2 separate regions of the Homo sapiens genome follow, and region 2 is linked to region 1. A link means that fine-mapping ties the variant in region 1 to the expression of a gene that starts in the linked region. Tissue or cell type: whole blood. Region 1 holds a variant in brackets; the other region holds the start of a gene. All regions are shown on one strand. Distances are between the middles of the regions.

What was found. PIP is the estimated chance that this variant, and not a neighbour inherited with it, causes the effect.
Region 2: it holds the start of ALOX15B, and the variant in region 1 is fine-mapped to the expression of ALOX15B in whole blood (INTERVAL, PIP above 0.99).

The regions. Positions count from the first base shown.
Region 1 is chr17:8,061,589-8,066,844 of GRCh38, forward strand. No RefSeq gene overlaps it. Among named protein-coding and RNA genes, the nearest start is that of ALOX12B, 23 kb to the right of the region's middle. RefSeq lists an enhancer at 2,759-3,260. The variant A/G (reference allele first, on the strand shown) is at 2,675.
Region 2 is chr17:8,036,579-8,041,578 of GRCh38, forward strand. It overlaps ALOX15B (arachidonate 15-lipoxygenase type B), which reads left to right and starts at 2,481. Exons shown (of 14, transcript NM_001141.3): 1 at 2,481-2,724; 2 at 2,808-3,027; 3 at 3,324-3,405. The coding sequence starts at 2,578.

The DNA of each region.
Region 1 (5,256 bases):
TTATTCAAACTCAGTTTCATTCTGCACAAAGAGCTGAGCTACAAGCAGTTATATCTGTATTGGAAGATTGTAATCAACCTGTTAATATAATCTCTGACTCTGCTTACGTATTCCAAGCTGCCAAAATGGTAAAAACAGCTTTAGTAAAACATATTTCTGATGATCAGTTAAATTTCTTGTTTAGTTCACTTCAACAAGCAGTTAGGACTCAAAATTTTCCCTTTTATATTACACATATTTAGGCTCACACAAACTTACCAGGACCTTTAACCCTATTAAATAATCAAGCAAATTTATTAGTGACGCCTGTTCTAACAGTGTCCGGCCTCTGAGCCCAAGCTAAGCCATCATATCCCCTATGACCTGCACGTATACATCCAGATGCCCTGAAGCAACTGAAGAATCACAAAAGACGTGAAAATGGCTGGTTTCTGCCTTAACTGATGACATTACCTTGTGAAATTCCTTCTCCTGGCTCAGAAGCTCCCCTACTGAGCACCTTGCAACCCCCGCCCCTGCCCGCCAGAGAACAACCCCCTTTGACTGTAATTTTCCACTACCTACCCAAATCCTATAAAAGGGCCCCACCCCTATCTCCCTTCGCTGACTCTCTTTTCGGACTCAGCCCACCTGCACCCAGGTGAAATAAACAGCCTTGTTGCTCACACAAAGCCTGTTTGGTGGTCTCTTCACACAGACGCGAACAAAAGCTCAAAACTTCCATTCCCTAATTCATGTAAATGCTGCTGGATTAAAAAATAAATATTCATTTACCTGGAAACAAGCTAAAAATATAGTACAACATCCTCAGTGCCAAGTGCTACAGCTACCCACCCAAAAACCTGAAGGTAACCCTAGGGGGCTTCAACCAAATGCAGTGTGGCAAATGGACATGACTCATGTCCCATCATTCGGAAAACTTTCTTTCGTACATGTTACTGTTAATACTTTTTCTCGGTTTATCTGGGCTACACGCCAAACTGGAGAAAGCACAGCTCACGTAAAACGACATTTATTATCTTGTTTTGCAGTCATGGGTGTGCCACAGAAAGGAAAAATGGTCTGGTGGAAGGATACCAGAACCAAAACTTGGAAATTAAGAAAAAGTATTACTTGGGGGAGGGGTTTTCCTTGTGTTTCACCAAGAGACAATCAAACACTCATTTGGATACCCAATAGACATTTAAAATTCTACAATGAACCCTACACCGACCGGTCAGAAAAAAGGAAAGAATCAAAAGAGAAAGAAGACCGGTCCCTTCGACCTGTCTTTTCGGGAGCTGAGGAAAATGGTGAAGCTGAGCGTCTCGGAGAAAAAACAGAAGACGGAGAAGACTCGCTAGGCTACACCACTGACATGGGGACAGATAAAGAAGCTGACTCAATTGGCAGAGGACACCCTAAAGGAGAAACAACTAGCGATTACACCGGGTAATATGATCTTGGCTGCCTTGATGGTAATCACCACGGCGGTAAGTCTCTCTGCTGTTTCAGCTAAGCAAAATTTTACTACTGGGCTTATGTTCCATTTCCTCCTTTGATTAGACCTGTCACTTGGATGGACTCCCCTACTGAAGTTTATACAAATGGTAGTATCTGGATGCCTGGGCCGACTTATGATAGCTGTCCTGCATAGCCTGAGGAGGAGGGCATGTTAATGAATGGGATAATTGGGTATAAATACCCTCCAGTTTGTTTAGGAATTGCTCCTGGATGTTTGCCATTACAAATACAAAGTTGGATGGTCTACGTACCTCCTCATAATCGTTCTCAACCTAGTTATCACGTAGTGAGTGGAATGTCTTTTCAACCCATCAGGACTGTAAAAACTTAAGGGGATAGTTATTATCAGTCAAATATAAAAGTCCAAAATTGCAAGCCTAAGGGATTGGCTTGCCCTAAAAGGAATCCAGAATGGTCAGAAAAATGAGAAATTCTTACTTGGGAGGTTTGTGTGGCAGATAATGCGGTAGTTTTGCGAAATGGTTCTCATGGGGTCATTATAGACTGGGCTCCTAAGGAATCTTTTGCTAGAAATTGCACCGGACAAAACGCTGGGTGCGCTGGGGACTCCTTTATGATCGAATATAGAAATGATCCATATAATCCCCCCACTTTAGTTAGAAGATTTGAATCAACATACCCATTAAAGTGGGAAGATAAAGATACTGCTCCCCCTCCACCAAAAATTAGTCCGGTCGTGGGTCTGGAACATCCAGAATTGTGGAAGTTGCTTATGGCGACCTCCGGAATGAGAGTGTGGAAAGGGGAAGCGTCCTGGGGAACAAAAGGTAATAAGCCACTCTTTACTATGCCTTCTCCCTCTGCCCACTCCCCCGCCCCCCGAAAGGAAGACCTCCAGGTGACGCTCCCTGAGGACTCGGGCCAGGTGCTGCTGCTGCGTTTGCACAAGGCGTCCCCCGCCTCCCCTCCCCTCTGCCACCCCTCCCCCCGCCGGCCTCCCCGCCTCCCCCACCTCACCCCTACCCCCTCCGCCCCCCGCCCCCCGCCACGCTGCCTCGCCCCCTCTAGGTCCGGCCCAGACTCCGGGGTCTGCCGCTGGGTCCAGCTGAGGCTGCTGGGGACCCCCTCCGCTCCCCCTTACCAGTGGCTGGAGGGGGCAGGCAAAGGGCAGGGCCGGGGCTGCAGGAGGGGCATGGAGGGAGCGAGGGGG[A/G]CCAGGGTGGTCATGGGTCAGGGGAGGGGGGCTGGTGTGGACACAGTGGGGAGGGGGGAGGCAGAAAGGTGACATGAGGGGCACGGGAAGGAGGAGGTGGGATGGTTGGGAGGAACCATACTCAGGGAGGGGAGGATGGAAGATAAGTGGGGGAGGGGAGCACCGGCTCTGACAAGAGGATTAGGTGGGGAAGTTGAGTGGTGGATCAGTGAGTGGAAGAGGGAGAAGCTGGTGGAAAGAGAACAGGCCTGTGAAGCAGAGGGGTTGGGGGCAGAACATCGTGGCCCAGTATTGGGGGTGGTGGGTGTAGCTATGTCTTCTCTTTCCTCTTCCCACCGACTTTACTCTTTGGTCCCCTCTGGCCTGGGCTGTTGAGTTGGGGCTCAGTGAACGGATGGGGACGACCTCAGGTGCTGAAGCAGGTGCTGAAGCAGGGTCTGCCGTGGGGGGAAGGTGGAGTGGGCAGGGCTTCTCCATCCCTGGGGGAAGAGGCAAAGCAGACGCAGAGGCCAGGGGCTGGCCAACACCCTGGTTCAAAGATGCTCCCACCCCAGGTCTGGGGAGAGGAGGGGAGAGGCTGGGGGCTAAGATCTCCCTTTCTGCACCTGGATCCCCTCCACAGCCTGGGCCATTCTGTCTTTGTTTCTGCAGGAACACTGCCCTGAAACTGCAGGACTGCTGGGCAGCCAGGGGTCTGGAAAAGGGATCAGTGTACCTTCATCTTCCCCACACCAAGGTGTCAGGTCCGCAGGGTGAGGGAGGAAGGGCGAGGTGGCTGCAGCAGGGCAAGAGGGTCCTTGGTGGCAACCTTGTGGGACTGAGAACCAGAAAGCCAAAATTAGAACATTCTGGAAATCACAGGACTTGTTCTGTGCTGCCACCAGTTCCTACCTGTCCTTTGAAGAAGCTCACTTCTGCCCTGAGAATGTGCACGTCCTGCCATTGTGCTCGGCTCACTGCAACCTCTGCCTCCTGGGTTCAAGCGATTCTCCTGCCTCAGCCTCCTGAGTAGCTGGGACTACAGGCACCCACTACCACACCTGGCTAATTTTTGTATTTTTAGGAGAGACGGGGTTTCACCATGTTGGTCAGGCTGGTCTCGAACTCCTGACCTCCTGATCTGCCCACCTCAGCCTCCCAAAGTGTTGGGATTACAGGGGTGAGCCACCACGCCCAGCCCAGCAGTGGCTTCTGTGTGGGAAGAAGGTCAGGGCTGAAGGACCCTGGGAGGATGCCCCACCCAACATGTCCTCTCTCATCGTGGGGTAATTGCCCATGTTTGCCCAGCCATTCTCACCTATCAGGGCTTCCAAAAGAATGGCCAAAGTAAGTTCTAACAACTTTGCTTCTTTGCCAAGGCAAGCACCAATGCTACTTTTCTGCCCTCTCTGGATGCCCGTGACTTCGGTCCCACAGGAAGCCAAGCTCCTGAGGCAGCTGAAATTCAGTCAGGGGACTGGGGTCTGTGTACTGATCTACACCCCACTTCATACCTACTTCTTCAAACTGTCCCCAACACTGGGAACACCTGTCCTTGAATATCCTCAGCAATTTAAGGGGAAAAAAAGGCTGAAGCAGAAAGACTTTTTCCTTCCAAAATTGTGCCTGCTTGCTTGGGGGCCTAGGCATGCAGACTTGAAAATAAATCAAGCTTGGGTGGGGCATGGTGGCTCCCGCCTGTAATCCCAGCACTTTGGAAGGCCGAGGCAGGCCAGGCAGGGTGAGGAGGATCACAAGGTCAGGAGATCGAGACCATCCTGGCTAACATGGTGAAACCCTGTCTCTACTAAAAATACAAAAACAAAATTAGCCAGGGTGGTGGCGGGTGCCTGTAGTCCCAGCTACTCTGGAGGCTGAGGCAGGAGAATGGCATGAACCCAGGAGGCAAAGCTAGCAGTGAGCGGAGATCGCACCACTGCACTCCAGCCTGGGCGACAGAGAGAGACTATAGAAAGAAAGGAAGAAAGAAAGGAAGGAAGGAAGGAAACTAAGCTTAGGAGGCCGAGGCAGGTGGATCACCTGAGGTCAGGAGTTTGAGACCAGCCTGACCAACACAGCAAAACCCCGTCTCTACTAAAAATACAAAAATTAGCCACGCATGGTGGCAGGCACCTGTAATCTCAGCTACTCAGGAGTCTGACGCAGGAGAGTTGCTTGAACCTGGGAGGCAGAGGTTGTAGTGAGCCGAGATTGCGCCACTTCACTCCAGCCTGGGCGAAAGAGCGAAACTCCGAATAAATAAATAAATAAATAAACAAACAAGCAAACCAAGCTGGAAGATTCAGTAGTGCTCACTCTCCAATATCCTTGTTGCCGCTGGGTGCACGATGCATTTAAACTATACAGGTCAAACTCTTGGTTCAGAAACCCTAGCACCAGTGCCACGCCCCAAAGCAATGCAACCTCTTATTAAATGATCACTCTGGTTTAACAAATCATCTACACTGCCTTGTGACAAAGTAGCAGGAGAATGGGACCCGGGACTGGTGAGTTTTGGCAGGGAATCAAAAGGGCCTCTCTGAGCGGAAGCCCGGAAGGACGGGCCGTTCTGGTATCCAGCATTCTTTAGTATTCCAGTTTTC
Region 2 (5,000 bases), 25 kb before region 1:
AAGATCAGCCTGGTCAATGTGGTGAAACCCCATCTCTATTAAAAATACAAAAATTAGCTGGGCATGGTGGCAGGCGCCTGTAATCCCAGCTACTTAGCAGGCTGAGGCAGGAGAATCGCTTAAACCCAGGAGGCGGAGGTTGCAGTGAGCACAGATTGCGCCACTGCACTCCAGCCTGGGCAACAGAGCGAGACTCGGTCTCAAAAAAAAAAAAAAAAAATTAAACATACTGTTACCATATGATCCAGCAATTCTACTACTAGGTATATATCCTAAAGAATTGAAAGTAAGAACTGGAGCGTGCAATATTGGTTTTCTGTTCCTGTGTTAGTTTGCTAAGGATAATGGCCTCCAGCTCTATCCATGTTCCCACAAAGGACATGATCTCATTCTTTTTTTTTTTTTTTTTGAGACGAAGTCTCGCTCTATCACCAGGGCTGGAGTGCAGTGGCACGATCTTGGCTCACTGCAACCTCCGCCTCCCGGGTTCAAGTGATTCTCCTGCCTCAGCCTCCTGAGTAGCTGGAATTGCAACCTCTGCCTCCCGGGTTCAAATGATTCTCCTGCCTCAGCCTCCTGAGTAGCCGGAATTACAGGCAGTCACCACCACACCCAGCTAATTTTTGTATTTTTAGTAGAGATGGGGTTTCACCATGTTGGTCAGGCTGGTCTCGAACTCCTGACCTCGTGATCTGCCTGCCTCAGCCTCCCAAAGTTCTGAGATTACAGGTGTGAGACACCATGCCTGACCATGATCTCATTCTTTTTCATGGCTGTATAGTATTCCATGGTATATATGGAATATACATGATAAGTCACTCTCACTTCAGTTGGCTTTCATGAAACACTGTGACAGGCACAAGAGGACAAAGTGTCTGCCGGCATCGTTCTCCTCCTACCTCATTGACTGAACTTTGCTGCTTCCACTCCTTTGCATGACTTCCAAATATCAGAGGACCTTAGGGCACAGCTTGTGCCTCTTCTCTTCTCTACTTATAGGATATTCTCTGCCTAGTGATCTCCACCAGCCTGTGGTATAGATGTACCTGTGTGCTTGTGACTCAAAGATGCACACCTGCAGTCCTGAGCTCTATGCCCAGACGTGGGTTCTCCACTTGGATGTCTAATGGCCATCTCAAACTTAGCATCTCCAGACCGAAAACCCCAAATCTGTTATGTTATTCCCCCAAAGCCCAAATCCATAACTTCCCCTTGGCATCTCTCCCCCAAATCCCTCCCTCACTGCACTCTTGCCTTTCCCTCCTCCAACAAGCCAAGCTTTTCCTAACCACAGGGCCTCTTCAGGAACAGTTTCCTCTGCACAAAACTCTGTTCCCCAGACAGATCCTTTCACCTCCTCTGAGGCTCTGAACGCCTCCCTTCCCACCTCTGCTTCTCACTCCTTCACATTAGTCTGTTTCATTTCCTTCATTGCACTTATTATCATCTGAAATTATGTGTTGGTTTACTTATTTTCTCTCACACTTGATTTTTTTTTTTTAGACCGAGATTTGCTCTGTCGCCCATGCTGGAGTGCAATGGCACAACTTCACCTCACTGAAACCTCCGCCTTCCGGGTTCAAGCTATTCTCCTGCCTCAGCCTCCTGAGTAGCTGGGACTACAGGCGCCCGCCACCACGCTTGGCTAATTTTTTTGTATTTTTAGTAGAGATGGGGTTTCACCATGTTGGCCAGCAACTGTGCCTGGCCTCACACTTGATTTTTAATCTCCATGAGAGCAAGCACTAGGTCTTGCCTGGGCCTTTATCAATAGCAGTGAGCATAGCACCTGGCACAGAGGTAGTTCTGAACATTAATTATTGAATGAAATAAAATAATGAATGTAGGCTGGGCGCGGTGGCTCACGCCTGTAATCCCAGCACTTTGGGAGGCCGAGGCAGGCGGATCATGAGGTCAAGAGATCAAGATCATCCTGGCCTACATGGTGGAACCCCGTCTCTACTAAAATACAAAAATTAGCTGGGCATGGTGGCACTCGCCTGTTGTCTCAGCTACTGGGGAGGCTGAGGTAGGAGAATCACTTGAACCCAGGAGGAGGAGGTTCCAGTGAGCCGAGATCATGCTGCTGCACTCCAGCCTGGCGACAGAGCAAGCCTCTGTCTCAAAAATAAATAAATAAATAAATTTTAAAAATAATGAACGCAGGCCCAAGAAGAGTTGTGGGAAATGGGGTGATATTTTTGCATAGACTTCTAAGGCTAAGAAGGAAAACAAACAGACGTGGTGGGCACAAATCTACCCCCACCCCAACTGGGTCCCAACTCTAGGCTCTCTGGCCTGGCACCACCACTGAAAGGCCCCGTTCCCCAAACCTCAGGGTATTCTTAGTCCCTCCTGTTCCCAGCGCTGCCAATCCCCCGCCCACCCCCACTTTAGTTGCGTGTTCCAGCCTCTCCGCCCCGCCCCTCCCCGCCCTGAAACGGACGTGCTTTTTAGAGGAGTCCACTGGGCTTGGAGTCAGTGGCAATAACCAGGGGCAATAACCAGGCGTGTCCCAGGGGGGAGCCCCGCTCTGCAGCCCTGTGCGCCGTAGAGAGCTGGACTTAGGCTGGCAGCATGGCCGAGTTCAGGGTCAGGGTGTCCACCGGAGAAGCCTTCGGGGCTGGCACATGGGACAAAGTGTCTGTCAGCATCGTGGGGACCCGGGGAGAGAGCCCCCCACTGCCCCTGGACAATCTCGGCAAGGAGTTCACTGCGGGCGCTGTGAGTGCGTGGGAGTGGATGGGGTGGAGGTGAAGGGGGCGAGCAGGAGGGTCCGGCCTGACGCATACTTAACCTCCCCTCAGGAGGAGGACTTCCAGGTGACGCTCCCGGAGGACGTAGGCCGAGTGCTGCTGCTGCGCGTGCACAAGGCGCCCCCAGTGCTGCCCCTGCTGGGGCCCCTGGCCCCGGATGCCTGGTTCTGCCGCTGGTTCCAGCTGACACCGCCGCGGGGCGGCCACCTCCTCTTCCCCTGCTACCAGTGGCTGGAGGGGGCGGGGACCCTGGTGCTGCAGGAGGGTACAGGTGAGGGGCGGGCCGGGCTGGGGCTGCAGGGGGAGCACAGGAAGGGGTAGGGGACTGGGGGTTGGGGAGAAGGGCAGGTGAAATGGAGAGGTGAGCTGGTGTGGCCACAGAGTAGCGGGCAGAGGAGAGGGAATGGCGGAGCCTTGGGGAGCGGGAGGTAGCAGCCTGGTGTAGGAGAAACTGTACTTATGGGAGGAGGGGACCTGGTAGAGGGTGGCAATCGTGGAGACTGTGTGGCTGGTGGTAGTGATGGTGAGTTTCTCTCCCCACCCCAACCTACTCCCCTTCTCCCACAGCCAAGGTGTCCTGGGCAGACCACCACCCTGTGCTCCAGCAACAGCGCCAGGAGGAGCTTCAGGCCCGGCAGGAGATGTACCAGTGAGGAGGGGGTTACTGATGGGGGAGGGTGTGCCCAAACGATGAGGGGCAGCTTGAGTGTCCTGGTCATGACAGAGATTAAAAGCCCCTGCCTCCACCTCTCCTATCAAAGCTGCTCCTGGGATCAGCAGCGTCTACAGGAACGTATTAGAAATGCAAATTCTCAGGCCACCTCCAACCTACTACGACACTGAGGGTGTAGAGTGGGAATTTTTGTTTTGACAAGCCTTCCAGATGACTCTGGTGGCCACTGATGTTTGAAAAACACTGCTCTAGGGCCAGGTGCCGTGGTGGCTCACACCTGTAATCTCAGCACTTTGGGAGGCTGAGGGAGGCGGATCACTGGAGGTCGGGAGTTCGAGACCAGCCTGGCCAACAGGGCGAAACCCCATCTCTACTAAAAATACAAAAATCAGCTGGGTAGGGTGGCGGGCACCTGTATTCTCAGCTACATGGGAGGCTGAGGCAGAAGAATAGCTTGAACCCGGGTGGTGGAGGTTGCAGTGAGCCGATCACGCCATTGCACTCCAGCATGGGGGACAGAGCAAAACTCCATCTCAAAAAAAGAAAAAAAAAAAGGAAGGAAGGAAAAGGAAGGAAAGAGAGAAAGAAAGAGAGAGAAAGAAAGAAAGAAAGAAAGAAAGAAAGAAAGAAAGAAAGAAAGAAAGAAAAGAAAGAGAAAGAAACTGCTTTAAATGCCTTACCTTTGCTGGTGTCTTCCTTGCCCTGGGACTTTTTCATGCATCGGCTTGTTGTGTCCTCCCAGAAATCTGAGTAGAGCCAGAAACACGCCCTTCAAGCCCCAGGAAACTCACCCTCCAGGGCTAGCAAGGGGTGAGATGGGGGCTCTCTCTGTGCTCTGGGCTCAGCATTGGAGATCACAGGGGAAAACTGGGACTTGGAGATAACAGAGGAGTTGGGGCCGCTAGTGAGGATTCCCTTGGCACAAAGCCAGGAACTGCATTCAGAAACAGATTTTCAAAAGATCTTGATCCGGCCAACTCATCTGCTATCTAAAGCCTGGGCTGCAGGCTTTTGCTCCTGGTCTGTGGGATCAGAGCAGCCACAGGCTCATTTGGTTCCTGGTGATTCTCCATGTGTCATGAATTCCACCCCTAAGGAAACCATTGCACCAAATCTGGCAGCAACAGCCCCAAGAGAGGGAATAGACATTGAGATCTACTGTGTCCATGGAGACCCAGAGTCAGCCTAGGCCCTGCCAAAACGAGCTGTGAGATCTTAGACCAATTTTTTCATCTCTTCAATTCTTATTTTCTTCTGTAAAAGAAACTAAGAATACCAATCTCGTTTGGGTTAGGAGGAACAAATGAGAAAATGGTTAAGAATGTAGGTGGTCAGCTGCTAAGTCTTGCACAACTGTGTGCTCTTGCTGTTGTTCCTGTCTTTCAGTTCACTCTGTTCCAACACTCTAGGCTCTTATAAAACGTACAGTGAGGTCTCAGATCCATTGCAACAGCATTGCCTGGGAGCTTGTTAGAAATCAGAATCTGCATTTAACCAAGATCTCTATGTGAGAGGGATTCAAGTCTGAGAGGAAGGGTTTGGCCACCACCTGGTGGCAGTGTACTTTAATT